Regions from separate parts of the Homo sapiens genome. Here regions 1, 2 and 3 are each reported to be linked to region 4. Evidence: microRNA targets listed by miRTarBase, many of them from high-throughput screens and not tested one by one. Region 4 holds a microRNA gene; each other region holds the end of a gene's coding sequence.

Region 1 (7,342 bases), not on the chromosome of region 4:
AGTTCTTGTGTGAGCACCAACACTTTGATGTTGTTCAGTATTTTCCCACATGGAAAATTGCAGAGTTTTTATAAGCCTTAAGTAGATTTGGAAGAACTTTAGAAAAAGTTTGGGCTTCTACAAAGCATATTAATTAATTAATTTATTTATTTATTTATTTTTATTATACGTTAAGTTCTAGGGTACAGGTGCACAACGTGCAGGTTTGTTACATATGTATACATGTGCCATGTTGGTGTGCTGCACCCGTTAACTTGTCATTTACATTAGGTGTATCTCCTAATGCTGTCCCTCCCCCCTCCCCTCACCCCACGACAGGGCCCGGTGTGTGATGTTCCCCTTCCTGTGTCCAAGTGTTCTCATTGTTCAGTTCCCACCTATGAGTGAGAAGAAGGCATATTAATTTATTGAAAAATGTCTAGGCTTTGTTTCTTGGGGAAAAATACTTAGTATGCTGAGGAACAGTGCTATTGTTCTCAAATTAATGGAAGAATTTCCATATTTTGCCCTAAGTGAAGACTCTGGGAGGCAGAAACAGTGAGGGAGCTGGCTGAGCACAAGAGGAAAGTGCTGCTGTTTCATAAACTCTGATGTATTCTTTGGATGTCCTGCTAGAAATGTTGGGAAAACATCACAGCCTGCATACTTCAGCACTTTCAGGAAAACTTTTATCCTCTGTCCTGCTCCATTTTTGGCTCACTTTGAAAAATACTAAAACAGTTTGTGCTGTATTAAAAATTTAAAAAATAGTCATATAAATGAATAGACTTATGAACAATTTAAATTGTTTATGTATTTTGCATGGGTAGACTTCTAAGAAGGGCTTCTTGGGAGGCAAACCATTACCTGTGTTCCCCCATGAAAGGGCTATAGGTTAGTACATACCCTGTTAGCCCATAGGAGTCTTATTGGCCAAGGTGTAGGGATCACTCTGAGTACAATGGCCTTTCCCTGAGCTTAGGTAGGTCCTGAGGTACTTACTCAAGTCCAGGGATCATCCTGCTCTCTGAGGATAAAGGTATCCATAGTGACACCTTGGAGACCCTGGAGACATCGATGAATTTGACACTTCCAGGATCTTTTGGAGGTATCGTGTTGTTGGCAGTGATCTTTGTGTACTTCTCTGCCACTTCCTTTCTTTGGGGCTGGGACATTCAGAATTCCCTCCCAACCTCCAACTTTGTCTTGTCTGTTGGGAAGGTGATTCCATTCACAGAAATCAGTCCATCCATTTTGTGTGCACACTCTCCCCTTGTCCTTGTCTTTTCTGCCTTTGCTCCAACATCTAACATTCCTCCTCTTGCCTTTGCAGGCCTTTTTTTTCCTTGTTTTCAGAAGCCCTCCCCTTTTACCCACAAGCATTTTCATCTTTCTTTTCTTACTGTAATGCAGCCAAGACAGACAGAGAGGGAGAAGAGAGGACCACCACTGTCAAGGCCCTCCTTTTAGCCCCCAGCAAACACACTATTCCAGAGGACACTTTGACCTCCTTTAAGCTTGACTCTGGCTGATATTTCCAATTTATAGCATTTTAGTAGTCCTGGCATTCTCAGAGGCTTACTTCATCCATCTTTAATACAAATTATATTTCTGTCATCAGAACCTGAGGTTGACAAATGTGCATAAGCTAGTGGCTGGAGGTGCCACTAGGTCTGGCTGATTTATTTCAATACTTCTATGTATTTGAAATATCCCCAAAATAGGCCTGTCTCTCTCTCTGTTGCCTTCTCCCTAAAAAGTTACTGTATTTTAGGCTTAGTTTTATCTTACAACAAAGCAGACAGGAGAATTCAAAGTGTCTAAAAACCTGCTGCCATCCAGCAGAAATGAGAAACCCAGGGCGGCGCGCTCTGTTTAGCATCCTAATGTGTGTTTCCTTTTCTATGCAGGCTGGTTACATGTCTGGGATGCTGGTGCCTGTAGGGGTTGGGATAGCTGGAGCCTTGTTCATCTTGGGAGCCCTCTACAGCATTAAGGTTATGAATCGCCGAAGGAGAAATGGCTTCAAAAGGCATAAAAGAAAGGTATGGAACCAACAACAGCAAAACCTAATCAGTTTCAGAACATTCTTTGCTTATCTAATTTACTTAATAAAGCACACGGGGTTTAATGATGCTTGGGTGGTATTGACGTGCCCAGTGGTCTGGATTAGCTGCTGTAGCTCCTGCCTTGGCTTCGTTTGTTAGCATGTCTTTTAAAGTGGGCCTGTTTCTCAGCTTTGCTCTGTGGCAGAAAGAGTTTAATGCTTTTCTGTTTTCTTTCTCTAGCAGAGAGAATTCAACAGCATGCAAGATCGAGTAATGCTCTTAGCCGACAGCTCTGAAGATGAATTTTGAATTGGACTGGGTTTTAATTGGGATATTCAACGATGCTACTATTCTAATTTTTATTTTGGAGCAGAAAAAAAAAAAGAACAACCTGCCACATTGCTGCTATCAGGCCGTTAGTCCTAGTGTCTGCTGGGTGCTGGGTAGTAGATTTTTCTTGTACTGAGCAGAAATGGCATGTTGTATACTAAACGTATCATGCAGTATTTGGTTTTATTCTGTAGTGAATTTTCCACAACCGTGGGCTACAACTCATAAATATGCAACATATATGTTTTTCAGTAGGAGTTGCTACATTAGGCAGAGTAAATATTTTGTAGTTTTCCACAGTGTCTTTTCCTTGGTTTGAATTACCTGCATTGAGAATAATGATTGTTGCCACCAAGGCATGCTTGACTCTGAGATATAAATCTTAACAAAGAATAACTTCTCAAGATATACTCTACCTACTTGAAACCACAGGGTTGTGGGCCATGGTACATACTGCATTTGCATCAAACTAGCAGTAACTCAGAATGAAATCATTTTCATTAAGAAGCTCTCTCAGCATATTAGGATTATATGTAGATTTGTATGTATTTTGCATTATGTACTTCAGTCTCCTAGTTTTATTATTCTCACCTTCCGTTTTATTCTTGGCGAGGAAAAAAATGCACTAGAAATAATACATTAAACTGACTCTTAGTCTTAATGTACGTTTGCTGTCTTAAATAGTGTGATTGAGTCCAACAGACTCAATCATACATGTCATACATGTTTATGATTAAGAGATATTCTTTTTGTGTGCTAGTTGATTTTGCCGAGAAAAAATGAAGAAGAATTCAAGAATGAGATGAGGGTAGGTAAGCTCTCAGAGCATTTCTGTCTGCCATTTGGTTCTATGCTTATGTGGCTGCTAATGTGACTAATTCAGAGTGTTGTATTTCCACATCTGTGGACTCCACCATGGAAAAGGTGGGCTACCATTGGTCCTTATATGGCTTTATTAGAAAAATAGACATTCTATCGTTTGTCTGCCCAGTGGCCAGAGTCCTGGTGAACAACAGAGCTCATGGGAAACCAGCCTCTCTCAGGGCACCCCGCTATGAGGATATTGAAATATGTTCAATCATTTCTCATCTCCCTTGGAATGTAATTCCCTGCCCTATACAAAATAGGATATTCCAATGCGCTATTTGAATCTAGGGATTGAGGATTTGTAGTTGAGTTTTGGGGTAAAGGCTTGGCTCATTGCCATGGAAGAATAAAAGTTATTTATTAATAGTGCTGTCACTGTGGAGTACTTGTTGGTGTTTATTAGAAGTTGTCTACTATGTTCAAGAAAAGTTGCACAGTTATTCCTCAGAGCTACTATGTGAGGTAGGACATATGTTTTTATTCTCCCATTTGACTGAAGATGGAACTGAAGCAGAGAAGTGAAATGATTTTCCAAAGTTGTACCCAGAGAGAATCAGCGTGAGAACCCACTTGGACCCAGCCATGCACCCTTATCTTCAGTTCAGTAACCTTTTCATAGACTTTGGTGGAAGCAGTGACATTTCAGGGTCCTTCTTTAAAACAAAGGTTCTAAGGGAATAGCAGGGAATAGCTGCCTGGTCAAGGAACGTTTGATGTGAATTTCCATCTTTGTTAAATGAATGATGCCTTTCTAATTTCTCTCTTACTCACACACAAGTTCTTTCCTTCCCCATCTCAGTTATCAGTTATTTCCTTTACAGTCATACATTTGAGTATCACCTCTATGGAACTAATAAACCTTCCTAGAATCCGTTTTTGAATAATGTCTGGCTCACAAGAACATTTTCATCAAATAATTTTAACTCTTTTTGCCAAGAGATGTAAGCAAATATGTGAAACTGATCAAGAGAAGTGAAAAGCTCTGTACAGTCAAATAGAAGTTAGCAACTGGCAAATTAGCTCAAGGTCAGATTTTAAAAATAGAATTCAGAATCATGACACTCAGAAGTGATTTGTAATTTCACGAGTAGAGACATCCTGATATTGCATAAGGGATGTTTTCCTTTTCTAAGAGCAGCCCTTTGCTGTAAGTGTTTCTAAGGTTGGGAGTAAGTGAGCATGGTGTGGCATTACTGTCTTTGTATTCTTGACAAACTATTTGTTGAGAATACGTCGTAGGCCACTTAACTGAGTAGCACATGGGTGATACTAGTGGCCATTATTGCCTTGGGCTACTCAATCTATAGTCTTAACTAAACCATGGCTAATAGGTTGAATCTTCAAACTGTAGTGTAATAAATTCCCAAATAACAGACCCATATTTTCATTTCTCAGAGGTCCGTGAGGATGACATGTATGTGAATTTTGGCTTAACACAGTATCTCTGTGGTCCTTTTTGGGACACATGATTTCTTAAAGGAAAAGATTATACTTAGAGTACATTTCTGTACAAACCCATTTAAACATCTGGATTGAGTGGAAGGTCGGTGGATGGTACAAATGACATGTTTATTTTGGCCATTTTCCTTGCTGCTGGTGGCTGTGGAATAATGATTTTCAGTGGTTGGCTTAGATTATTAAGAGGATCAGAAAAGGTTGTCATATTTTAAACAAAACCTGGGATTAGAGATGCTGCTACGAGATGGAAGTGCTGGCCAGTGGTTATATAGTGGTCCAGTTGAGAAGTAGTAAATCAGGCACTTGTAGGTTTACCCAAAATAAGTGACAAGTATGCTTATATTTGCACAATTAAAATAGAAAGTCAACTTTTTATTCAAACAACTAGGCTTAAAACATTTAACAGTGAAACAAATAAAGCTGTCTGGAAAGGAGGGCTGATTCCTGCAGCTTCAGTTGTGAACACCATCCCCACTGGACTGAGTTTACCCAGCCAGAACTGCCAGCATCCCACCGCAGGGGCAGGAACTAGGTCTTCTTCTCGGAGGGAGAGGCAGTGTTTCCAGAATTTGCAGGCTCATAAAAATCACCTGGGACACTTGTGAAACATACAGATCTCAAGGCCTTGCCCCAGACCTGATGAGTTAGAATCTCCAGGGAAGGAGCTTGGGGTATTCATGCCCCAGCAAGCTTGGGAACACAGCTAGGAGGGATCTATCTAGAGAACCACTTCCTTATGATAGAGACAAGGTCATTTAAAGTCACAATGAGATACCACCTCACACCTATTGGGATGGCTATTATTCAATAAAACAAAATATAACAATTGTTTCTGAGGATGTGGAGAAATTGGAATCCTTGTATACTGTGGGTGGGAATGTAAAATGGATAGCCACTGTGGAAAACAGTATGAAGATTCCTCAAAAAATTAAGATAGAACTACTATATAATCCAACTATCCCACTTCTGGGCATATATCCAAAAGAATAGAAATCAGGATCTTGAAGAAGTATCTGTACGCCTGTGTTCATTGCTTATGCTTATAAGCATATTATTCACAATAAGCTTATAAGTATTATTCACAATAGCCAAGATATGGAAATTGCATTGATAGATATGCAAATATCTATCAATAGATGAATGGATAAAGAAAATGTGGTATATACATACAGTAGAATATTATTCAGCCATAGGAAATAAGGAAATTCTGTCATTGTGACAATATGGATATACATGGAGAACATTATGCTAAGTGAAATAAACTAGTGACAGAAGGACAAATGCATGATTGCACTTCTTTGAGGTATCCAAAATAATCAAACTCATAAGGGCAGAGGCAAAATGGTGCTTGCCACGGGCTGGGCAAAGTTAAAGGTGGGGAGATGTTGATTAATTATGTTTCAGTTATGCAAGATGAATAAGTTCTAGAGCTCTGCTGTATAACATAGTGCCTATAGTTAACAATATCGTACTGTGCAGTTAAAAATTTGTTAAGAGGGCCGGGTGTGGTGGCTCACGCCTGTAATCCCAGCACTTTGGGAGGCCAAGGTGGGCAGATCATGAGGTCAGGAGATAGAAACCATCCTGGCTAACATGGTGAAACCCCATCTCTACTAAAAATACAAAAAATTAATTGGGCCTGGTAGCGCGCCTGTAGTCCCACCTACTCGGGAGGCTGAGTCAGGAGAATCGCTTGAACCCGGGAGGTGGAGGTTGCCATGAGCCAAGATTGCGCCACTGCACTCCAGCCTGGCGACAAAGTGAGACTCTGTCTCAAAAACAAAAACAAAAACAAAAAACAAAACAAAACAAAAATTTTTGTTAAGAGGGTAGATCTCACATTAAATGTTCTTAACACACACACACACAAACACACACACACACACACACACACACACACAAAAGAGACAAGGAGAGCAGTCCCCTGTAGGAAGAGACACTTTCCCTGGTCATGCTATCCAATAAATCACACCTGCTGTGGAGAAAGGAGAAAGGAAAACAAGGAAAGAGAAAAGGATGGAAGCTACTAGAAAAAGAATAGAAGGCTGGGATGGAGAGAAAAGGGTTTCTCCCATACCCCTGATGTCTTTTTCTCTAATTAGAAAAGACAGTGCTTTTCTTTCCAACCTCTTTAGTTTTTTCTTTCCCATAAGCTGTTTCTTTCAGTAGCTGCTAGCTTAATTTATATGCAATATTTGGAGTTAATTAGTATCCCAGGGTAACAGATTCCCTTAGCGATGCCTTAGCTGTGCCTTCAGCTGATAAACTGCCTCAAATACAATTTTCCAGAAACACTTTCTTAAAGTACCTGTATCTCTTAACATAGGTCAAAACTGTATGAAGAAATTTTAAAGCCAAGTTTTAGAACACATTTAAAGTAATTTTTGAAGAGTCAATTAAAAGTGGTTTTTCATTTTATGATTTTTTTCCCCAAATGCTAAGCGTTAAAAGCCAAAACATTTTATATAGGTATCCGAAAATTACATAGAGTGCATGGAGCATACTGAATACCTCGCTCTTCCTTCTGTGTCTGCCTCCAGGTGTCTTCTTCCTGTAGAAGTCCAAATGAAACACCTTATTTCCAATCACAGCCACAACCTGGGGGAGAAGAATCAAATCCTCCACAGGGATTGTGATTTCTGCAGATATGAATAATCCAT
Region 2 (7,292 bases), not on the chromosome of region 4:
TAACTAAACCCTATTCTATTTATCAGGGGCCTAAGCAGATGCTAACAAACCCTGTCAGCATGGGAGGGGGACAAGGTGCAGGTAGGGGCGCCTGGGAAAGCCCCAGCGTGTGGGTAATTGTAGGAGAAGCCGCAGCATACAGGGCAGGGTTCATTGTGGGTTTCCCCCACATAGACACCGGCATCCCTCCACTTCCACCCACCCCCAACCGAAAATATTAGGGACTCCCTATAGGTCCCGCGGGTGTGCTTTCAGCTGCTTCATTTTTCCCAGTCGGAAAGTCCCTGCTGGGCTTCAGCTGCAGCCAGGGTGGACTGGGTGGTTGGCCGCTGGCTGCCTGGGCCTCCGACAAAGGCTGCGCCTGTGGCTGGGCTGCTCCGAGGTCCCCGGTCCAGCAGCGCCCCCCAAGCCTCCGGTCGGCTGGGGTTCCCTCCTCTGGGGGTCTCATTCCAGGCTGCTGCTACCGAGCCTAACTTCGAATTCTGGGACTGGGGGGGTTGGGGGGGTGGGTGGCGCTTAAGCATTTACACTGACACATAGCTGGCTGCCACTGACGGGGTCTGCGGGTGTGGGGAGGGGAGATAGGAGCGCATCCTCTGCCTCTCCGTGCAGCAGCTTGACCCAATTAGGGACCTGATAGAAGAACTGGAGCCGGAGCCTGTGCTCCCCAGGAGCGGCTGGGGCGACCGGGGATCTATTTCCCAAGCCCGGGCTCCAAAGCCATGTGCCAAACTCATCGCTCAGCTCCGCAGCCGCGCTCGAAGACAGAGCGTCAGACCCGCGTCATTCCGCCCCCGCCCTCACTCCCTCAGGGGGCTACTGACCTGGAGGTTTGGGGTCTCGAGTGATGCTTCGGTGCAAGTTCCCTCCGCCCTCCGCCCTCTCCTCCCGGGAACACCACCGGGTGAAAGCTAAGCTGGAGGGAGTTCATTTGCATTTAAAGAGAAAGTGACCTTCTCCTTAGCGCGGTGGGGTGAGATGGGAGGAGCATCCCCGCGTATGCTAAGCAGTTCCTCTCACTCGACCTCACCTCCCCGCCTGAACCTAGGGGACCCTGTTGGTTGTGTGATGTCTATTTTAAAAAGATTTTCCCTTTCCCGGCAGTTTCAGAGAGAAGCTACAGTTCCTTACAAAATGGTGGTGGCTTTGTCAGAAAGGGGGTGGGGCGGGGGAGAGGAGAGACAGAGTGAGTGAGTGAGAGAGAGAGAATGTAAGCACAGAAGAAGCACAAGCAGCAACAGCAGCAGCATCAGGAAGACACTTCGAGCAAAGACAGCCATCAATGGAGTGAGTCCAGTGCCCTATTGAGCACTTTACATACATTTCATCCCCATAACAACCCTTAAGGAAGATACCAGTGTCATTCCCCATTCTACTGAAAGTAAGCAACAGTCTTTTGAGGGCAAAACCCCTCTCTCTACAATGCCAGACAGTTTTCTCTGGTAAGTGGTGGGGGCTGTATTTTGCCGCAGATGAAGTGACAGGAGTCCTCCCCACCCCCCAGGCCTAGGAGACAGGTGTGGGGAGCACCAGGTCATAAGGTAGACCACGCGATTCCCTGGCACCTGACTCCAGTCCTCAGGGAAACCTGAGCACCTGATGGAGGCTGACCCAGTGTGACTGCTGCTGCCTGCAGCCAGATCAATGGGGGCAGCTATTTAAAGCCCTGGCAGAGGCTCCTGGCGCAGGTCCCCAGAACAGCATCTGATACAACAGGAGAGAGGCTCATGTTTGGCCAGGCGGCTCAGCAGGCTCAAGTGAGCTGGCCCAGGGCAGTGCACACAGCCACCCAGCCCACCTTCCCCATCCCCGGGCAGGAGTGGCTTCCTGGGGTTGGGCCTCTTGGCTGATGTGGGGAGCCATGGGCACTGCTCCTGAGGGCACCTGCTCAGGGCTTCTTCCTGGGTACTTCCAACACTCAGAACACTCCACAAGGGTAAAGAGTAATTCCGAACTTTTTCAATAACCAGGGGCCCAGACTGGGGACAACAGAAATCCCTCTCCTTCCCCACCGGAGCTGCTAGAGTAGACAGTGGTAATGCTGCTGACAGAGGGAGCACCCCTGTGGTTCCCATCCTCAGCTGCTTCACTGGGGGGTCAGAAACCTCATTATTCTCAGAGCTGCTTTGCTTGGAATCTCCAAGAGTTGGGGCGGCACCCCCCCCACACCCTCCAGAGGATCTGCGACTAGAAATAACATGGCCAGCATGGAAAACATGTATCAGGACCCAGCTAGAAGGGTCAGAGGCTCTGCTGGGACTGTCACAGTCATTGTGGGCACATCTATTTGTGGAGGCCTGGAGGGAAGGGCAGGTGGGTTGTCTCTGCCATTTCCTGGGCATTCAGCACATATCATCCTTTGTGCCTGACCAACCCAGGACCCAGAGAGAACAGGGTGCTGGGTGAGGCCACCAGCAGCATGTCTCCCATATAGGAGTCCCATGCTTGAGGTGGGTAAATGGGGGGTGTAAAAACTGAACAGAGAATGTGCTCTCCTTAAGGAATGCATACAATTAGAGGCCCCTGTGAATTCCCTTGGGCAGGCCAGGGCTATAGGAGCCTACCCACAGCTCAGACCCAAATAGCAGTGATGAGTGTCCACCCCTCTTAACCTGGGCCTCAAATGGCCTATGCCTGGCTCCATGCCTTTTGCCTTACTGCTGGAGCCTATCAATTTCCTATTGAAACACCTTCAGTTGCCCCCCCTGCCCTCTGGATCTAGCCCACATTCCTTAACCTGGTACCCAGACTCTGGGCCCAGCCTCACCCCCTCTCCCAGTCCCATGGACCTGCTTCCCAGCTGTACCATTTAATCACTAAATGACGTTCATCTTCTACCTGCCCTGTGGTTCAGAAGGCCATTCCAGGTATCACCCCCTCACCTTGCTGAAGGGGGCAGGGGCCTCCTCTCTGCTCTCAGCACCATTGACCTGTCTATAGCTAAAAGTACCTTTTCCCTTCACTAGCCTGTGAGCCCCCAGGTCAGGGAAAACTTTTTTGTGTGTGTGTGATCCTCTCTGAGGCAAGGGTCTTGCCAACTTTGCCAAGGGCTCCACTCAGGCAGCTCAAGTGAATATGCCAGCATCCTGAGGCTGTGGCGACTGCTCAAAGACACTGTGGAATATGTAAGATACCAGGGAACCACCATGGGCGCTCTGCAGCAGACCTGAACAAGTCAGTGATGATGGAAGGGGCTGAATGGATCAGATCCAGAAACAAAGGAATACACAGGTCAGGAGAGAAACAAGTAAGGCAACAGACTCTTTATTTAATGTGGTTTAAAATACATCAAAATCAAGTCCCTGGCTGTTGTGAATACCCAAAGGAGACAAAAAAGCTGCCAGTGCAGCTTCAAACAAGTCTGAGTGGCCGGGCTGGGCCATAAGGAAAGCAGTTACAGGGACAGAAGGCAGCTCCCTTCCCCCAGGAAGGGCAAGAGGAGCAGGTGCCTGGCTGTCCCTGGGGTGACCACCTCTGTGCTGTGCAAGGCGGAAAGGCTGGGGCAGCAGCTGGAGAATCAGCTCAGCAGGCCTTGGCCCTCCCCCGTGGACACCAGGCAGCTCCACTGGCCTCCGGGTCAGCCCTCAGGGCCACCGTGATGGGGTGGAGGAGGGTTAAATAACCATCTTTACAGAAATAACAGTCTCCTACAGAAAGTGCCTGAGCTCAGCCCATGGTCCGATAACCTCATGGAAAACAAACAACAAATAAAAAAAAAAAGTGCTGCTGACACCTCTCAGAATCTGGTGGACATGAAGCTCTCAGCTGGACAAGGCCCTGAAAACAATTTACTATTAGCAGAGCCATGCGCTCTTGAGCTTCACCTGCTGTGGTCCCCTGGAGGAAAAGCTAGCAATCTAAGAAACCAACACAGATCTTGGTCCTAAAACTGAGGTCACAAGTGTGGGACCCACCCAGGTGAGGAAGACACTGGCCTTCACTCATGGATAGGCACCTCCCCTGCATCTGGCCCAGGACCTGGGCTACTTTGGAAAGCAGAAGCAGAGCAGCTGTAGTGATTGGTTGATTTGGTCAATGAAGAGAAGAAAAAGGTAGGGAACCTCATCTGCAGACTGGCCTGAAGGTCTAGACATGGATGGAGCTGTGAGCAAAGGCTGCACCTTGCCTGGGGCCCACATTCCTGACCTGGGAAACCCAGCTGGGGCCACCTGCTCACTGTGGCCTCCTACACCACCACACTGGGATCCAGCAGCTCCAGTCCCTCCACAGGCATTAAGAGGTAGCTGAAGTGTGAGTCAGGCAATTATGTGGGCCACTGTAGGCCTTTCCCCTCTCTTCAAGGGGGAAGGTGCATACCTCTGCCTCTTCCCTGCACCTCTCTCGCCTAGCAAACACTCTGTGAGGTTGGCAGCTCTTGTACCAGCTTAGCCTGGCACAGGGGCTGGGGTAGGGAAAAGGCCCTACTGGAGCAGGAAGAGGCAAGGACTACTCCAGACAGAGGGATTCAAAGGGGAAGAAAAAGGTCATGGGAAACACTTCACAGGACAGCAGTATCTCAGCCAGAGATGGCAGAGATCTCAACACTCACACAGCTGCTTGAGGGCACCTAGATGTGAAGGATACACCAGAGAATAGCAGGCAACTCTGATGCAGATCAGTGGTACCTGCCCTGGGGCAGGAGAAGGAGAAATGGTGTGCCATTCATTTGCCATCTCTGGTCTCAGTCACACATGATTCAGTACTTAACATTCTTTGTGAACCAACTTATCTGAGAGATTTAAGGTAAGGGCTAAAAGAGTGGGCTAGGTATGGAAGATGAAGGGACCTGCAGGACAATGAACTAGCTTCAAAGAAAAACAGCAAGAAGCAAAGCCCTAACCATCCTATCCATCTTGGTCTGAGTCATTCTGTTGTCCCAGAAAACTGCTTGGCACAAACACTGGCTAATACCCTGGCAAGTTTGCAACAGCAGAACATTCAGCATATAGAATGGCTCTACACAGTACATAGTAGTTATGTACTGGAGTGGGGGTAGAACAGGACACAGAAACAACTGTCTGCAGCCATTTTATGGATTTCTGGGGCCCAGTCAATAGTTCAATTTCATTTCTTACCTGTTAGACAACAGCTATGGGCTCCCACACAGGAAGAAGTAGAATCCCCAAGGACAGGCAGGGAGGTGCCAGGAAATAGAATCAGGACAAATCTTGAGGATTGCACATGTGGGGGTGGGGGCAGGAAGCAGAAAAACCCATGAAGCCAAAGAGGCAGCTGGACATGGGACCCAGCAACTGCTGCATGGAGACAGTGCTGATGGGAACTGGTGGTGGCCTCTCAGGACTGAAACCCACAGGTAAGCTTGTGGCAAAGCCATCAGAAGCCCTTTCCTTTCTTTTACCACAAACAACCTGATCTCACCAAACAGGAAACCTCAGCATCAAGATGGCAAAGGAGCCAAGTGGGGTGGTGAAGGAGGTGGGACACTGGAGGCCAGGCACCCAGGCACCACTGCTACAGCATCCCTCTTCCTTGGAAGGTCCTCAATACAAACACTGTCATGTGCAAAAAAAAAAGAAAAAGAAAAAAAAAAAAAAAGAAAAAGAAATAAAGAAAAAAACACCTTCAGAAATAATCCTTTGGGTGATCTCTTGTCAATCATTTGTGCAGGCTAGAGAGGCACCTGTGAATGATAAGGCTACTGAGAAGCATCATTGGCCTGGTCCTGGCACTACCAAAGGGCAGGGGAAGCGATGCCCAAGGGGCTCCTGACCAGCACATCATCCCACGCAAAAACATTCTCCAGGTCCCTTGTTCCAGGCAGGAAATCCCCAGCTCTGAGCGCCCTGCCAGGGCTCTGCCTAGGGACACCTTTTCCAGGTCTAGAGAATCAAAGGAGCCTCCAGAGCAGCTAGGAGGGCCTGAGCTGACCAAGCAAGCCCTGCTCACAAGACAAATGCAGTCAAGACCTGGGTGTATTACTTGTCTTGAGCTCTGAAGGGCAGGGAGGGGTCTGAGCCTCAAATCAGACAGAGAAATGCTCAAGTCACTTCTGCCAACTCACTGTGATGGCAGCTACAGATGACAGCCCCTCTCAAGACTCTTCAGCTCACAGACAAGCCACTGACTTCATCTGTACACACCCCCATCCCCAATGCAAGCCCACTGTACACTTACAGGTATAAATGCATTTGCAAGGCCTTGCAAAATGCCCTATGTACGTAAAACTGACCCACAAAATCCAAAATTGCAAGTGCCAGATGCCAGCCAGGTCAGAACATCCTGGCTTCAGCAATGGGCTGCTCAGCATGGGAGCCTTTTATGGGCCAGGCCTGGCTGGGCTGCCGCTCCCTTCCCAGCATGACCCAACACCAGGCTCTCTAGGCCCTGGCGGAGGTGGGCTCTTGAGGCCCAGTCTGGCCTGATGCTTCTGTGCTCGGTGCTCCTGGGTAGCAAGGCGCTTCTGTGACCCTGGGGGAGCTGGGTGCTTGAGCCCCAGGCCCCTCTGGCCTCCTCTCAGGGCCACTGTCAGTGAGGGAGCCCTGGCCACCAGCACTCAGGTCCTGTACCCTCTTGTTCAGGTCATTGCGCTCTGTCTGCAGTGCCCGGCACAGCTTCTCCAGCCGTTGGATTTTTACCTGCAGGCCCTCCAGTTCTTTATCCCGGACTGTTTTCTAGGGAAAGAAATGAGACCTTCAGTGCCGTGCCCCATCAACCTCCCACTTACCATCACCACTTGGCGGCAAACACTTTAACAAGGCTGAGAGCAGACCGAGTCCAAAGCTGGCCCCCTCTAGGAAACAGTCCTAGTTGAAGCCATGACTAGGCTGTCAGGTGGGGCAGCATGGTGCAGAAAAGGGGCACGGCTTGGAGATAACGTATTCCTCCATTTATCTACCACGTGACCTTGGCAAAGGACTTGACTTTTGAGCCTGTCTCATCTATAAAACAGGACTACTAATACCATCCTCAGAGCTCAAGAGAAGGTTCAATGAACAACGTACCTAAAAACATTCAGCAGCAAAAAAGACAAAAAAAACCCAAAAACTTTCAGCAAGGTCTGGCTTGCAGTTGCTGCTCCATCGTTAGTTCCTTTCTTCTACATTACAAGCTGTGAAATCACAAACTACCTGGGCTGCTTTACATGTAAACCAGGCACATCACTGGCACCCGTTTTTTTCTGCTCTTTTATTCCTTTCTTCCATTTGCTCCCTTCACTCCCACTGGAGACCTACCACTGGGCTCACCACCTCCCATGGGGAGAGAACAGCATTAACTTTGGACTTGGACATTGTGTGCAAATCTCACCTCTACCTCATGCTAGCTGTGTCACT
Region 3 (7,342 bases), not on the chromosome of region 4:
TTAGGTGGGCTCAGAGTACATGTTTCTAGAATGAAGTGTGCCTAGGTACAGTCCTCTGACAGTCCTAAGGGTGGAGCCATTTAGCTTAGCCCTGGAAAAACGATTCCAAAGACTCATGCTGCTACCGGGACCACAGGTGCTAGCAAATGCTCTCAATCCTTCCTGTCATCATAAGATGGAAAGTGCCTTGATGAGCAGGTACTCAGGAAGGATGGGAATTCAGAGGACACTATTTTCTAAGGTGGTGGCTATCAAAGCCTATACTGTGGCCCATTTTAGATTCTTTAGTCTGGGCTGACCTGCCTTCGGTGACAGTGGGATATATGATTATTCCTGCCTGGGTGCAGGGCTGAGCCTCCTGTTTTCGTAGACAGTCATGTTCACGGCCACCATGCCCCCAGCGGTGGAGCGTCTGGCCAGGAGCTATCTTCGGCGACCTGCTGTGGTGTACATTGGCTCCGCAGGCAAGCCCCATGAGCGTGTGGAACAGAAGGTCTTCCTCATGTCAGAGTCAGAAAAGAGGTATGAGGGCAGCTGAGCCAGGGGAAACAGGGTGGAGAATAAAATGGCTCTGAGAACTTTTTTAGTGCAGGTGCAGGGCAGGGCAATTGCTCTGCTGTGTTGAAGAGCTGCTGTTTTCTTGGGCAGAATGTCATGGGCATTAAAGACCCTGAAAGTAGTGTTCATAGATGAGGGTTGGGCATTTCACTTGGAGTGGGAGGTATTATGCATCTTGTTTTTCTCCTCTTCCTTCCAGGAAAAAGCTGCTGGCAATCTTGGAGCAAGGCTTTGACCCACCCATCATTATTTTTGTCAACCAGAAGAAGGGCTGCGACGTGTTGGCCAAATCCCTGGAGAAGATGGGGGTGTGTCTGGCAGGGGAGAACAAAGTCTAGCCTCTGTGGCACTGCTTTCTGAATCTAGCAGGGCCCCCTAGGCTCTTCCTTTCAAGTCTCACCCTTTCTTTAGCCTGTCCAGCAATCAACAAGTTAGGACCAGGGTGAAGGGTGGTTTGAGGGAATAAAGAGAATGGAATCAATTGCTGGGACCCCCTGTCTGCTGCAGTAATGCCAGCCAAAGCTGCCTTGGGTCTTCATCCTGGTGAGGTGGAGCCAGGGAAAGGTTTGAGACCCATATCCTGGCAGTCTGAGGATGTAGAAAAGAGTAGGTGAAAACTGCTTAGGTACGTTGAGAGGAGGTGATATGGTCAGAAGGGAGCTGATAATCAGTGTCCTTTACTCCTGTCACTGGTGCTTGAGGGGAGGGGTGTGTCCCTGTCACTCAGCTCTCCAACTTCCTTAAACTTCTTGATCCCTGCTTTCTACCCTGATCTCGCCCCTAATTCTCTTTGAGGACTTTTCATCTGTCTGGCTCCACCGCTCTCCCAGCTGTTTTGCCTTTGACCTTACTCTGTGTGTCCCTGCCACACCACACCTTTTTCTCTCATCCCTCTCTTCAGCTCACTTGTTCTCTCCTTCTTTCACTGCAATCATTCTCTTGTTTCCTTTCCTTTCTCGTACTCTGCTGCTCTCTCCAACCCTCCCTTCATCTGTGTCCCATTCCTCTGAACTCCTGTGTCTCTCCTTGATTGCATTGCTCACTCTTCACTTCACCATTCTTCCAACAGTACAATGCTTGCACACTGCACGGTGGAAAAGGCCAGGAGCAGCGAGAGTTTGCGTTGTCCAACCTCAAGGCTGGGGCCAAGGATATTTTGGTGGCTACAGATGTGGCTGGTCGTGGTATTGACATCCAAGATGTGTCTATGGTTGTCAACTATGATATGGCCAAAAATATTGAAGGTAAGTTCCAGGGAAAGCAGCTTCAATCCAGGGTGAAGTCAGATTCCTTATGGTGTCCCACTGGAAGTCAGGGTGCTGTCCATGGAAGGCTGTTACTGCCTCCCTCAGTTCCAAGTCTGGGATTGCTTGCTCCCATGAGAAGCACTCCTGTCCTTTATCTTACCTGGGTTTGTTGTCCCAGCAGCTGGGATGACACTTGTGTCCTCAGGAGTGTGAAGAATGAAGCTAGGCAGCTGTGGGTCTTAGTGTGGTAGGGACCACAGTCAGTAGGAGGACAGGGGAGATGGGCACCTGGAGAGGGCACTGTGGGCGCCTCAGGTTCAGGCAGCATGTGCTGTATTCCTGCCTTTGGAGATGGGGTGGGAAGGATGCCTCTAGAAGTGGAGGCATCAGACACGGCTCCCCAGGGCATCTGGGCTATGCTGAGTGACGTTCTTCCCATTCCCCAGATTACATCCACCGCATTGGCCGCACGGGACGAGCAGGCAAGAGTGGGGTGGCCATCACCTTCCTCACAAAAGAGGACTCTGCTGTGTTCTACGAGCTGAAGCAAGCTATCCTGGAAAGCCCAGTGTCTTCCTGTCCCCCCGAACTAGCCAACCACCCAGATGCCCAGCATAAGCCAGGCACCATCCTCACCAAGAAGCGCCGGGAAGAGACCATCTTTGCCTGACACAGCACTCTTCCTGTGGGCTGAGGGCATCTCCAAAGCTGCCTGATGCCTGTTTTTCAGAACCCTCACATCCCTCTTTCCAGGTCCTCACTCTTGGGATATGGGGGCTTAGGAAAACAATCCAACTCCCTAGCCCAGACCCTCAGGTCAGGAGGCCTGCGTGTGGGGCTGCAAAAGGAGAGGACGACGCTGTCGGAGGCAGGGAGAGCAAATTACCACAGCTTCTTGGCCCAGTTCTGCCCTTCTTTGCTTTGGGATTGCACTGGGCCATCAGCTCATGCCAGGCTATGGGGGCAGCCAGTTGGCATTGCTCCCCAGACTGAACAGAAACCTGGCCGCCGGATGGGACCTCCTTTGGCACAGACTTGACTGTGTAACTGCATAAACTGCAGTAGCATCATTGCCCTAGATGCCCCAGGAGACCTGGCACCATGAGGATTACAGACAGTGGAATCTTACTGTCATCTGGACAGCTGTTTTCCTGTTTGGATGGTAAAGGAAGTTGAGAGTCTTTAGACCTGTGCACAGCCCCGCACCAAGGGGTGCTGTATGCTCTAGGCATCCCCTCCCCCAGGGGATTTTCTAAGTAGATGGGGGGACACGGTGAACTGGCTGTGTCCATCTTTGTCACTGAGTGAAATCTCTGTTTTCTATTCTCTGAGAAGATAAGTTTGTATGTTCTGAGAATAAATACATGAATATTAAGACTGTTAGATCTAGTTCTAGTTAAACTTCCCAGCTTCTCCCTGGCAGGAGGGACACCACTGGGTGCGGGGTGGGTTGGCTTGGAAAATGAGAGACAGCCACATTAAGAGAAGAGTAGAGGGGTCTCTGCTGATAGTCTTGAGTCTGTAGGTGGACTTGAGAGGAGATGCAGAAGCCACGCAGGACTGTAATGCATCTTCCGCCCCTGCTCTAGCCTCGCGTAATGTGTGGCCCTGGCCTGGACACCCTCTAGGGAGCTTTAGGCAAAGGTGAGAAAGGAAAGCAGTTGTGAAATTTTGGCAGGTGAGGCAGTTGGAACCACTCTGCCGCTGTGTGCCCAACGCCTGGTCTCGGGAGCTTTGCTTGTGGCTCCCTAGTTGGACCCATTGCTCCTGGGAGGGGATGGTGCAGAACGGGTGGACCCAGCTGTATCAGGCTGTGGTGAGAGGAACGCAGGGCTGCAGTCCTCCCCCCATACCCCTCTTGTTCACATGCTCTTCTTACCCCACAGAAAGAGTTGGCCTAGTACATAGAGTTCAAGTTGTAGCTGCTTCTAGGGCCTTTTTGGCCTGGCGCAAGGATACTGTAAAGCCGTGACCAAGCGTCTTCCCCACATCCCAGGACAAGCCCTTCCGTGCTGCTGGATGTCTCCCTCTTGACACCTGGGCATGAGGAGTGGGGATGCCTGGGAGTGGAGTGCCTCCCCAGCTCTGCCTTTGTCCCCTTCCCGCTGGACAGATCCTCTGAGAGAAGGGCGGCCCAAACACATCTTTCCCTCCACCAGACTTTGGGCCGCATCACAGACAGAACAGAAGCCGGAGGGACTGTGCATGATGTTTATTAGTGATGACAGTGAGGTGAGGCAGGGGCTTGTGGAGCATGCTCTGTAGGTCACACACTAGAGCCATAAGGCAAGAGTAGCCGGGGAGACAGGTCCTCTGTGCCCTGTCTCTCCCCATCTAACCCTAACCTAACAAGCGGCAGCTATGAGTCAGGGAACAAAGTCTGGAGCCCGGTTCTCCAAAGATGTATGAGGGACAAGAACAGAAATGACAGGATGCAGGGCAAAAGAATGAGAAAGGCAAGGAGGCCCCCCTAAGTTCTCTGCTACACATGCCCTCCTTCCCCAAACCCCCATCCAGGTTGGCTCCCATCTGCCACTTGGCTTCACCATGCTCCTGGTCCCTGGTCCTGTCACATGTTAAGAAGCTTCCTGGCAGGGTGAGGAGAGCCCTTCCCTCCAAGAGCTTCAGCTGTGAGCTCTCTCTGGCCCGAGCGTGGCCAGCCTGCTGCTCCAGTCTTGGATGTGGCTGCCACACCCCAGCAAACAGATGGGTGTGCCACCCTGGGGGGGCTTTGATTGTCTCATTTCTAATGTATGGCAGTGAGGTGACTGGAGGCCCTGGATGCCAAAGCAGTCCCTTGACTGTCAGGACTTGTGCCTGCTCAGGGACCTTGTTTCTTCCTCATGCCATGGTGCCCACACCCCACCCTTTTGTCACTTTAATGGGGCATCCCTTCCCTGAGTCTGGTGGGAAGGACCCTGCTAAGGGGATCCTGGCCTGAGGGCACTGCCCAGTGGGGCAGCTTCCTGTGTGGGAGGAGAGGAAGGTGCCAGGGGTGCAGAACACACAGCTAGTACCTGGAATGGGAGCCTAGTAGGGGTCACTGCCCAGGAGGTGAGGGGGTCCCCTGTTTCTCCCAGAACCTTGGGACCACAGGCAGCCCTGAAGCTGGGGCTGGGCAGGGGGTTTTGGGGGCTGAGCCTAGTGCCAGCCTGATGCCAGTCTAACGCCACCCTGCCTGGAGTGGGCCCCCCAGCCAGCTGCGCCTGTGCCTGCCAGGGTAGGGCAGCAGGAGGCTGTCAGTAGCTATCCTTGGGCCAAGGCCGGTTGCGCTGCCAGTTCCGGTCACTGTGGTTGTGCTCTGAGTCCTGGGCTAGAAGCCGGTCTTGGGGGTCATGCCCGTTAGCACTAGGCAGCCCCGAGGTGTGTTGGCGGTGAGGCTGGTACAGGTCCTGGTAGGCATCTGCATAGTCCTCCTCCAGGTGGCGGGAGCTACGCTGTGAAGATCCTGTCCAGGCTTGGCGGGAGCTCTCGCTGGCCTCATCAGAGGGCATCAAGCTGTCCCGCTCAAGGGGGGAGTGCTCCTCGCCACGCTCCCCCAGCAGCTGCTGGTTCTGGGGGCCATACAACAGCTCTCAGTGAGGCAGTACAGACCTCACCTTGTCTTCTGGTGAGGTGCGAGATTCTTCCCCCCTCAACTCTCAATTCCCCGGTAAAGGAAATAGTGCAAGGAAAAAGCATGCTGGAGCATTTTTCCTCTTCCGAGAGAGAAAACTGGAGCTTCGACTCCCGCAAAATTCAGGCTCTGCCTTCAAGGCAGCCTGGGAGAAGGTTTGGAGATTGTGTTTCTCTTGACCCCTAGGAAACTAATCTCTGACGTATCCATCTCATTGATTGATTCCCTCTCTCCTCAGGAAGTTCCTTTGCCCGTCTGTGCTAGCTCTGTACAGCAGAGCTGAGAGTTCTACAATCCTTTGGCATGCTGAACTGGAGGCCAAGGACAGTCCTCTGGGCAGGGAGGGGCAGTGCCTTGGCTGGCTTAGCTTGAGCATCTCTGCCCACTGGAAATGGTTACCTGAAGTCCGGGGATGGCACTGGGAGGACCCAGAAGTCCGGGGCCAGGGGCTGGGTGGTGCGTGGCCCGCCAGTAAACCTCCAGGTACTCAGCCAGGTGCTCACAGGCATCCTCCAGCTGGTTCTCATCCAGAATCACATCAAATGACTCCTGGGGAGGGGGAGGAAGGCGCAACGTTGGTTTCCCCTCAGTAGCAGCCCCCCACCCATCTCTATCACTGCCGCAGCCCTGGGGGAGTGGGCACAGGAGCAGCTGACCCAGGCACTCACCGGTGGGCACTGAACCAGCTTATCATATGCCATCATCTGTACGGTCAGGTGCTTCATCTGTGACTTCCCCCGGGAGCGAATGAGACGCTGGAGTACCTGAGCGGGGAGGGCAGAGCTAGGCCTGGAGTCTCTCAGGACTCTGGGCAGAGCTGAGCCCGGGCAGAGCTAGGCATTTCTTCCACTTGTGGCATCAGTAGCAGGTGAGGATGACTCAGAGTTGTGTTAAGGGCAGCAGGAAAAGGGAACTCAGGTGCCCCAGGCAGGGACCAAGTAGAATCATGCCACATTCTAGTAGGATAGCCCTGTGGGCCTCCTCCATGAGCCCAGCTGACTTACCTTTGGTGAGGACACTTTGACAAAGACGATGATGGGGGCCAGCGAGGTCTTGGCCAGCTGTGCTGGGTGGTTGATGGTGTCAGCGTCCAACACTACTAGCTGCAGGGATTTGGCCAGCTCAAATATGCGCTCGATCTCACTCTGCACTTCCGCTATGGAGGGAGGCAGCAGCAGTGCTCACCAGGAGCTCTGCCCACTGCTCACTCCAGCAGGCTTTGAGGGCTCCCGAATGGTGGACAGGAAGGAATTGGAGGAAAAGGGCATTCATCGAAGCCTGGACAGGCAGAGGAATGGGAATTGAGGAGGAGGGGTGTGTTCTTGCCAATCCTGGGGGCAGGTAGAGGAGTTGGGCAGAAAGACAAGGAGGTAAGGAAGAGAAAAGGGAAGAGGGGCCAGGCATGGTGGCTCATGCCTGTAATCCCAGCATTTTGAGAGGCCAAGGTGGGCCGATCACTTGAGGTCAGGAGTTCGAGACCAGCCTGGCCAACATGGTGAAACCCCACGTCTACTAAAAATGCAAAAATTAGCTGGGCGTGGTGATGGGCGCCTGTAGTCCCGGCTACTCAGGAGGCTGAGATGGGAAGATCGCTTGAACCCAGGAGGTGGAGGTTGCAGTGAGCCGAGATCTCACCACTGCACTCCAGCCTAGGTGACAGAGCGAGACTCCATCTCAAAAAAAAGAAAAGGGAGGAGGAAGGTTCTCACTGGCACTTGAGTGGGCACAGAAGCAGGTGGTGGGGACTTCTCACCAATGCTGGAGCGGGCAGAGGAGCGCTCAATGATGGTCCTCTTGCCCGGATTGTTGAGCACAGATCGCTTTGCCAGGGAGAGGTCGGCTGTGACTCGGGTGATGGAGATCCTGGGGTGGGAGTGGAGAATCACAGCTTGCTTCTAAACCTGTGCCTCAGCCTCTCCTT
Region 4 (7,270 bases):
ACGCAGAGGGAAAGCATGCTGCCTTGTGTTCTGTAGCAAGATTAGGATTCCTCTGTCCCGTTCACTGACTTCGTCTTTCTTTCCCAACCTGTCCCTCTACGCCCCCCACTCCTTATTTAACCTTCCTGGAAGGCCTTCGGAGCTGGGCAAGCCGTCAGGGCGCCCTAAGGCCGCTGATCACGTCTGTGGCTTATTTGAATAATCTGTCATGGGGACCCTTGTGGCCCGGGTCGCCCGCAGCCTCATCTTGGCAGGATTTACGCCGCCACTGGCCGAAGGCAAGAAGTGGAAGGAATCGGCCGTCTCCCCCAGCGTCCCAGCTCCGGCTGCCCTGGCTGCCGCCGCTCACGGACAATCTAGTTGTACAAAAGGCTCTCTGGGCTGCACTGCTTTCGAAGAACGGCCCAAAGTATCTCGGTCCTGGGCCTGGGCAGCCAAGGAGAGGGGCGGCCAGTCTTGGCTCGTCCCGAAGTGCCCGCCCCGCCCCCTCTCGCTGCAGCAGCCGCCTCCTCTCCCGTAGCCCTGCGGGCCGCTCTTCACTGCTCTCCAGACTTGGGGCCCTATCTGAGGCGTCCCAAACACCAACTTCTGGCTCCTGGCCCCAACTCGAGAGGCTTCCAGCGAGGACGAAGGCAGGCTCGAGAGAAACCTGGCGGGCCAGCAGATCCGGGAGGCCGGCGTGGAGGCGGCGGCGGATTTGAAGGGAGGAGACACTTACTGGGATCGATGGGGGGCTTGTCTCCGCCGCTCTCATTCTCAGCATTGTTTTCAGAGAAGGCGCCTTCGCTGGGTTGTTTTTCTCTATCAACTGGAGGAGAACCACAAGCATAGTCAGTCAGGGACAAAGTGTGAGTGTCAAGCGTGGGACAGTCACCCCTTCTGGCCGACAGCGGTTCAGGTTTAATGCCATAAGGCCGGCTGGAGGGCAAGCCCGCGAAGGAGAGCGCACCGGGCGTGGGCTCCAGCCAGGAGCGCATGTACCTGCCGTCCGGCGCCGCCGCCGCCACGGGCGCCTGGGGGTGCACGTAGGGGTGGTGGTGATGGTGGTGGTACACCGCAGCGGGTACAGCGTTGGCGCCCGCCGCGTGCACTGGGTTCCACGAGGCGCCAAACACCGTCGCCTTGGACTGGAAGCTGCACGGGCTGAAGTCGGGGTGCTCGGCCAGCGTCGCCGCCTGCCGGGGAGGCTGGCCCAGGGTCCCCGGCGCATAGCGGCCAACGCTCAGCTCATCCGCGGCGTCGGCGCCCAGCAGGAACGAGTCCACGTAGTAGTTGCCCAGGGCCCCAGTGGTGGCCATCACCGTGCCCAGCGCCTGGCCCGCCCGGCCCGACCCACGGAAATTATGAAACTGCAGATTTCATGTAACAACTTGGTGGCACCGGGGGGGAAGTACAGTCACCTAATAAGTTGCCGGCGCCCGCGCCCCCATTGGCCGTGCGCGTCACGTGCCCGTCCAGCAGAACAATAACGCGTAAATCACTCCGCACGCTATTAATGGTCCGATGTTTTGCAGTCATAATTTTTATAGCAAAAGCCATATGTTTTTATGTAAAGGGATCGTGCCGCTCTACGATGGGGTTTGTTTTAATTGTGGCCAACGACGATTAAAAGATCAAATCTAGCCTTGTCTCTGTACTCTCCCGTCTCCCCCCCCATACACACACTTCTTAAGCGGACTATTTTATATCACAATTAATCACGCCATCAAGAAGGCGCGGGTCCCGCGTGCGAGTGCGGCCAGCGGAGCCCCTCACATAAAATTAGACAATAATTGAAGCCATAAAAAAGCAGCCAAATCGCATTGTCGCTCTACTGTATTTAAATCTATATTTATGATATTTCATAAGGAGTTATTGTTTCAGAAGCCACACAGGCTGGCGGGAAGTCGGAAACGACCAACAGATTCGTTTGCCTCGCCGTGGCTCCCAGCTGTAAAAATTTACGAGGACTTGGAAAGGTTAGACTGTTGTGTTTGGTTGGCGAGCTCCCTGTAAATAATCCCTGCGGTCCCCGGGAGAGGCGAGTTTACCCGCGGCCGCCCTCGAAAAGTCAAATTCAACGCAGGATCCGTCCCAAACGGAGCCGCCGCCGGCCCTACCAGGGCACTCCAGGCAGGGACCGGCCGCTCAGGGAGTACCGCGGGTGTAGGTCCCCACAGCTACCCGCCTGGAGCGAGGGGCGCCCGGGCAACCCTTAAATTCGCCTTTGCTACGAGGACCCCACGGAGGAGCTGGCCAGGAGGGAGCGGCCAGCCGCCACCAGGGCGAAGGTTTTGAGGGCCTGGTTGGTTGTGCGGCGCGCTCGGTCCCCGGCCCTCGACCCCACGCACACGCGCGCCCAGCCCGCCTTTCTCATCAGCTGGCAATCAGGATTCCCAGGCGCAGGCGGCTGGCGACCCAGCCCTGTGCTCCAGCCTCAGAGGCTCTAACCATGAGCGCTGCAAGCCTGGTTGCGCTCCGTGAATCCCAGCTGGGGAAAAAACTACAAGTGGCATGAATGGAAGGCAAGTTCGGTTTGGGAAAAGGCAGCCTCGCCTAAGAGACCCCGCAGCTCCGGAACCTGGGAGGCCCGCACCGATGTGGCCTGTCCCGGGGCCGCGTGAGCCTTTCAGGGCTCCTTCCTCCCTTTCCAGCTGCTACTCCGGGCCTCGCCTTGGTTACCTACGGGGCCCGGAGACTCGGCGGAGAGGTACAAGGCCCAAAGAGAGGCAGCCACAGCTCAAGGCCAGGGCTGGAAATTAGAACGGGGAGGGGTAAAAGGGCATCGACTCCAGTCCCATTCCTGGGCCTGGCCACGTTGGGGAAGTTTATTTCTCACCCGTTGGGGGTAAATTAAAAGGTCGCCGCCACTCCGTTAATTGGAAGGAAACTCCCCCTGCCCCCAATTCCTAACAGAAAGCAGCGACTCCTAGAACAGGGGTAATCAAATTCACGTGTGGATACTGTGCCTGCAACAGTGTGTTTTTCATTAGCCCACTTCCCTGGCGGCGAGGCTGGCGGCCTCGGGCGCTTCCATCTCTCTCTCTCTCTTTTGCCTTCATCCTCACCAGCAGTTCCAGTAATCCCCCCCTCAAACACCCTGACACACTTCCGGCTGGGACTCCCAAATACCAGCGAGGCTGCCAAGCCGCGCGGATACCGACTGGGTGCCCCTTCCTGCACCCGCGCCTGGAAGAGGGAAGTGGCCGACACAATGAACTCCGAAATGGCCCCGTCCTGTCCGCCTCATCTCCCTCCCCCTAATATTTTCCTTGCCCCATAAATTCCTCTAGGTCATGCCCACCCCCACCACAGTCCACCGTGTCCTAAATACCCCGCAGTCCGCCAGGCCTCTGAGATTTTCATTTAAAAAATTAACCCTGGAGGAAACCCTGGCTCCCAATTTTAAGTGTCTGCAAATGGGCTGGGCATGTCTGGATGCCTTTTCCACGTTTTATGCCTGAGAAGACACTGATTATTTCAGTATTTTTTAAGTAAAAAAGCTGTTCCTTTAAACAGCCTTAGCCCCAAAATAAGAGAGTTACTGAACAATTAGCAGGCGTTGAGTGTTAAGCAGATGTTACTGGTGCCTAGAAAGCGGAGAAAAATCAGAAAACCAAATATTGTCTTCCTTCAGCCCAAAGGTTTGGAGCCAGAATAGTCTGACTTTTTTGTCTGCTTTTATTTTCGAAGTGAAAGAGATTGCGTATGCATAAAGAAATAATAAATGAGTATAATTTAAAGCGGCCCCTTCTCGACTGAGATTTCTGAAACTGTGATCTCTGAAATAAATCCAATGCCCTGGTCCAGAAAATGGCAGGGAGGAGTTGAAGGGAATGGGGTGTGTGGTCCTTTCAGACAGCAGGTCGGTGGCTGTGCAACGAAAGAGTTCCTGGGCCTCCAGTCCAGGCAGGGAAAGGAAACAGCTTTGTGGGCACGAATCTGTAACTGTGTGTGTTGGGAGTAGGGAGAGATAGTTTGTTTTCTGTTTTCTGTAGGGAAAATGGTCAGACTGGCTCCCATCTGTAGACTACAATTTGGAACGATGACTCAAGTTTATATCAATGGCTCTGGAATTTGGGATTCTTTTTGCCCATTTAAAACATACTGGCTCTTGGAAGGGTCCCCTTCTCCAGCACCCAGCTGCACAAAGGTGCTGTATGGAACATATTTTGTACCTAATGGAAGCCACTAGTAAGCAAGCAGTCAAGCTTTGCCCTAGCCAGTCTCCCTCAATGCGGTCAAACCCCAAGCTGTGACCGGCAGGCCGGGAAGAGCCAGCTAAGAGCTTCCCAGCGAATGGCCAGGCTCCAGCGAGGCTGGTTGGGCCTCAGCTCCAGTCCCCAGTGAGGCTGGCGAAGGCCTCCCTGCCCTCGATATGGGCACACAAAGCTGCAGCGAATGTCCCCTAATCAGATCTCCTAGTCAGCCGTTAGCGACAGGCGAAGAAACGCAAGGCTGCCGCCATCCGGTCGTGATCATAACCGAGGCCTTGTCTGCAGAGTAACACACCAGGCCCAAACCCACCGCCCTCGGCAGCCGCCCCACGCGGGCCCTTCCTCGGCAGACTTCCCAACCTCTACTTGAGCCGCAGAGGAAAGTGAGACCCCCTAGGCTCTCCTGAAGCCAGCTCTGGGCCCCTCCCCAAGGATGCTTTGGGAAGGAGATAAGGAGGTGAGATAGAATCTGGCAGAGACGGAAGATGAAAAAAAGACCAACGGAAGAAAAGAAAGCAGGAAGGAGCAAAGGAAAGAAGAAAAAAAGAAAGAAGAGATAAAAGAGGAAGGGAAGACAGGGAAAAGAAGGAAGAAAAGAGAGGCGACTCCTAGCAGCGGCCGAGCTTACAGAGAGAAGGGTAAGTGACAAGGCCAGGATCCCAGCCTGCCCTATCCTTCCTAGTCCAGCCTGAGTCTCCACTGGAAGGAGGTTCTTTCCTGAGCTCACACCCGGGACTGGTGTGTGTGTGTGTGTGTGTGTGTGTGTGTGTGTGTGTGTTCCAGCCTTACAAGAGAATGGCAGGAGGTCCCTGGGCAGGCGCAGGCCTCCAGTGGGAGGCTCAGGATGGAAGCGGGCGCCCCTGACCTTGAATGGCCCAAAGCCCAGAATTCCTACCACGCCCCCGGCGTCCGCGAAGGAGCAGCCAACCTAACCCTACCTGCTGTGACCAGGTGGAGGTGTGTGGTGGAAGGGGAAAGCCGGCCGGCTGGCAAAGCGCTGCGGAGAAAGACACGAGGCTCCTGAGCAGGGAAAGCCGAGGTTGCCACCGCAGGCCTGGCACGACCAGGGCCGTGATGCCCCGCCCGGCCCGACCCCCGCGCGCAGAGGTACCTGGAGACGATTTCAACTGAAGTAATGAAGGCAGTGTCGTGCTGTCGAGAGAAAGGTGGATCCCAACAACAGGAAACTACCTAAATCACCGACCAGTTCTGGTGCTGCCCGCGAAGGGCTGCCTCGCCCGCCGCCGCCGCCGCCTCCGCCGCTGCCGCCGCCGCCAAGGAGAGAACCCTGCCATCGCGCCTGGCCCGGCCCAGCCCAGCCCCTAGGCAACCTGCGCCCGCCAGTGCAACAGAGTGCCCCAGGCGGCCGCAAATGCGTCAAGGAAGGGGAAGCCACAGGCCCCAGTAAGGTATTCCTGGGAGGGAGAGGGAGGAAAAGAGAGGGAGGAAAGGCAGGGAGAGAGGAATAAAGGCGGGGAGCAGGCGAGACGAGAGCAGCTCCGAGAAGCAGTGTGCGCGCCGCTTTCCCAAATCTTGCAGCCCAGCGAGCCGGCGCCAAGAGGCGGTAGCCGTGGAAGGCTCGAAAGCGCCAGGGACGGTACAGATCCCGGCTCCCTGTCTGGCCCCGGCCTCCCGCCTCTCGCTCTCCCCCTCTCCCTCCTAGCTGCCCGCCCGCCGGGGCGCGCGCTCCTGCGCCCCCTCCCCTTAGCCCCCGCCCCCCCCACTCTGGCAAGCAGGAAACGCGTGGCCCTAAGGAGTGCCGCCAGGTGGGGGAGGCCGTACTGGGGGAGGGGGAGGCCCCCATGCAGTCCAGCCCGGGTCCACCTAACCGCTGCCTCCAGCGGCTAGAGATGCGCTGTGGGCCAGGCCTGCTCCCCGATTCAGATTGAGGGTCATCTGTGACCCAGACACCCGCAAAATAACCGGCCTCTGCAAGCCTCCCTGGGGCTCCCGAAAGAAATCCTGTTTGGCTTCCTCTGTCTATGTAGCTCCCCTCTCAACTGAAATCACTGGTCCAAGACAGCCACAATCCAGATATACTAGCAAGCCATAAAACTGAACAAAAGCCGACAAACCTTACGGCACCAGGGCTATAGGGCCCAGACAAATTACGACCGTCTAGGTAATATTTAAATAGATGCCTAAAGTAATTGCAGGGGCTCGGGTTAGTCCTCCTGTTGTAAAAGTGGTGAACGGGATAAAGTGGAAGGTGAAGATAAGAAGTCAAAAAAGAGGTAAAATTAAAAAGCTTCATTCCACAGCTTTTATTCTATAAGAACATAAACATCGTCTTTTTCCACGCACAGCAGCAATACAATATTAATTTATTCTGATTTAAGATTAGAAGTAAATAGAGCTAGAACTAACATTTATAATAACGATAGAATGCATTTGCTTAAAACAAGATTGGCAATTCTTCATAATAATAGACATTTATACAGATTTGTATTTATAGTTTTTTTCTTTTTCTGCATCTACAGGTTTGACCCTTTTATGCATGTAACTTCACAGTATAAAGGAAATCCAAACAATGTCTCCCTTCTCTAGTTTATTCCGCTTACCCCAGTCCTCCTAGGCTTCTGTGAATTTCAGAAAGCAAAAACAAACAAAAAAAAAACTTTTTGTTCAAGGCGATTTAAAAAAACAACTTCACAAGATAGGGAGAATTGTGGTGTGCTTGTCACATGTTACCAGTGGTAACAATTTTAATGACAAAAAAATCCACTAATTCCAAATGCATAAACAAAACTACATTATTTATCTACAGCCAGAAGGATATGGAAATTTAGAGGTAAATGAAACATTTTAGTCAGGCAATGTAAGACCTTACAGAAACTGGAAGAGAAGTCCCCTTCTCTTGGTAATTCTTTTTTTTTCTTTTTAAAGCTGGGATATCTTACAGAGGAAGGAAAAATTAACCTTTTTTACTTTCTTTCTCACTTTTTAAATCAGCCAAAGTCAAGCCCGTTTGCCAACCTGCATGTCCATGCCTGTAAGCCCTTCTCTTGGCCAAGGAAGAAAGGAAGAAAGAAAAAAGAAACCCAGGGGCCTGTATCCCCTGATTAAACACAGCA

The links. The annotated mature microRNA hsa-miR-196b-5p reads UAGGUAGUUUCCUGUUGUUGGG and lies in region 4 at 5,369-5,390, opposite strand. An mRNA with a match to its seed (bases 2 to 7 or 8) in the 3' UTR can be bound and repressed. Matches are read on the target gene's strand: a 7mer-m8 pairs with bases 2 to 8, a 7mer-A1 pairs with bases 2 to 7 and ends in A, and an 8mer does both.
Region 1: the mRNA of ARMH4 is a reported target of hsa-miR-196b-5p. Seed matches in the 3' UTR shown: 7mer-A1 at 2,770-2,776.
Region 2: the mRNA of TXLNA is a reported target of hsa-miR-196b-5p. The part of its 3' UTR that is shown has no 7-base or 8-base seed match.
Region 3: miRTarBase lists CACNB3 as a target of hsa-miR-196b-5p. The part of its 3' UTR that is shown has no 7-base or 8-base seed match.

Annotation. Positions count from the first base shown.
Region 1 is chr14:57,999,730-58,007,071 of GRCh38, reverse strand. It overlaps ARMH4 (armadillo like helical domain containing 4), which reads left to right. Exons shown (of 8, transcript NM_001001872.4): 7 at 1,890-2,024; 8 at 2,268-6,311. The coding sequence ends at 2,336. Among named protein-coding and RNA genes, the nearest start is that of SLC35F4, 140 kb to the right of the region's middle.
Region 2 is chr1:32,194,242-32,201,533 of GRCh38, reverse strand. TXLNA (taxilin alpha) reads right to left here. Exons shown (of 11, transcript NM_175852.4): 11 at 3,249-6,632. The coding sequence ends at 6,339. It overlaps CCDC28B (coiled-coil domain containing 28B), which reads right to left and starts at 939. Exons shown (of 6, transcript NM_024296.5): 1 at 825-939. RefSeq lists enhancers at 1-93, 1-181, 94-613, 872-951, 1,164-1,721 and 1 more.
Region 3 is chr12:48,825,602-48,832,943 of GRCh38, reverse strand. It overlaps CACNB3 (calcium voltage-gated channel auxiliary subunit beta 3), which reads right to left. Exons shown (of 13, transcript NM_000725.4): 9 at 7,175-7,284; 10 at 6,426-6,577; 11 at 6,090-6,185; 12 at 5,821-5,970; 13 at 4,003-5,359. The coding sequence ends at 5,045. DDX23 (DEAD-box helicase 23) reads left to right here. Exons shown (of 17, transcript NM_004818.3): 14 at 371-522; 15 at 758-866; 16 at 1,628-1,802; 17 at 2,252-3,188. The coding sequence ends at 2,475. Among named protein-coding and RNA genes, the nearest start is that of CACNB3, 11 kb to the right of the region's middle.
Region 4 is chr7:27,164,160-27,171,429 of GRCh38, forward strand. MIR196B (microRNA 196b) reads right to left here and starts at 5,404; the gene lies at 5,321-5,404. It overlaps HOXA10-HOXA9 (HOXA10-HOXA9 readthrough), which reads right to left. Exons shown (of 3, transcript NM_001433944.1): 2 at 719-808. HOXA10 (homeobox A10) reads right to left here. Exons shown (of 2, transcript NM_018951.4): 2 at 6,446-7,270. It overlaps HOXA10-AS (HOXA10 antisense RNA), which reads left to right and starts at 4,740. Exons shown (of 3, transcript NR_046609.1): 1 at 4,740-4,834; 2 at 5,148-5,605; 3 at 7,149-7,270. It also overlaps HOXA9. RefSeq lists enhancers at 1-791, 792-1,668, 2,517-3,235, 4,425-5,015, 5,016-5,606.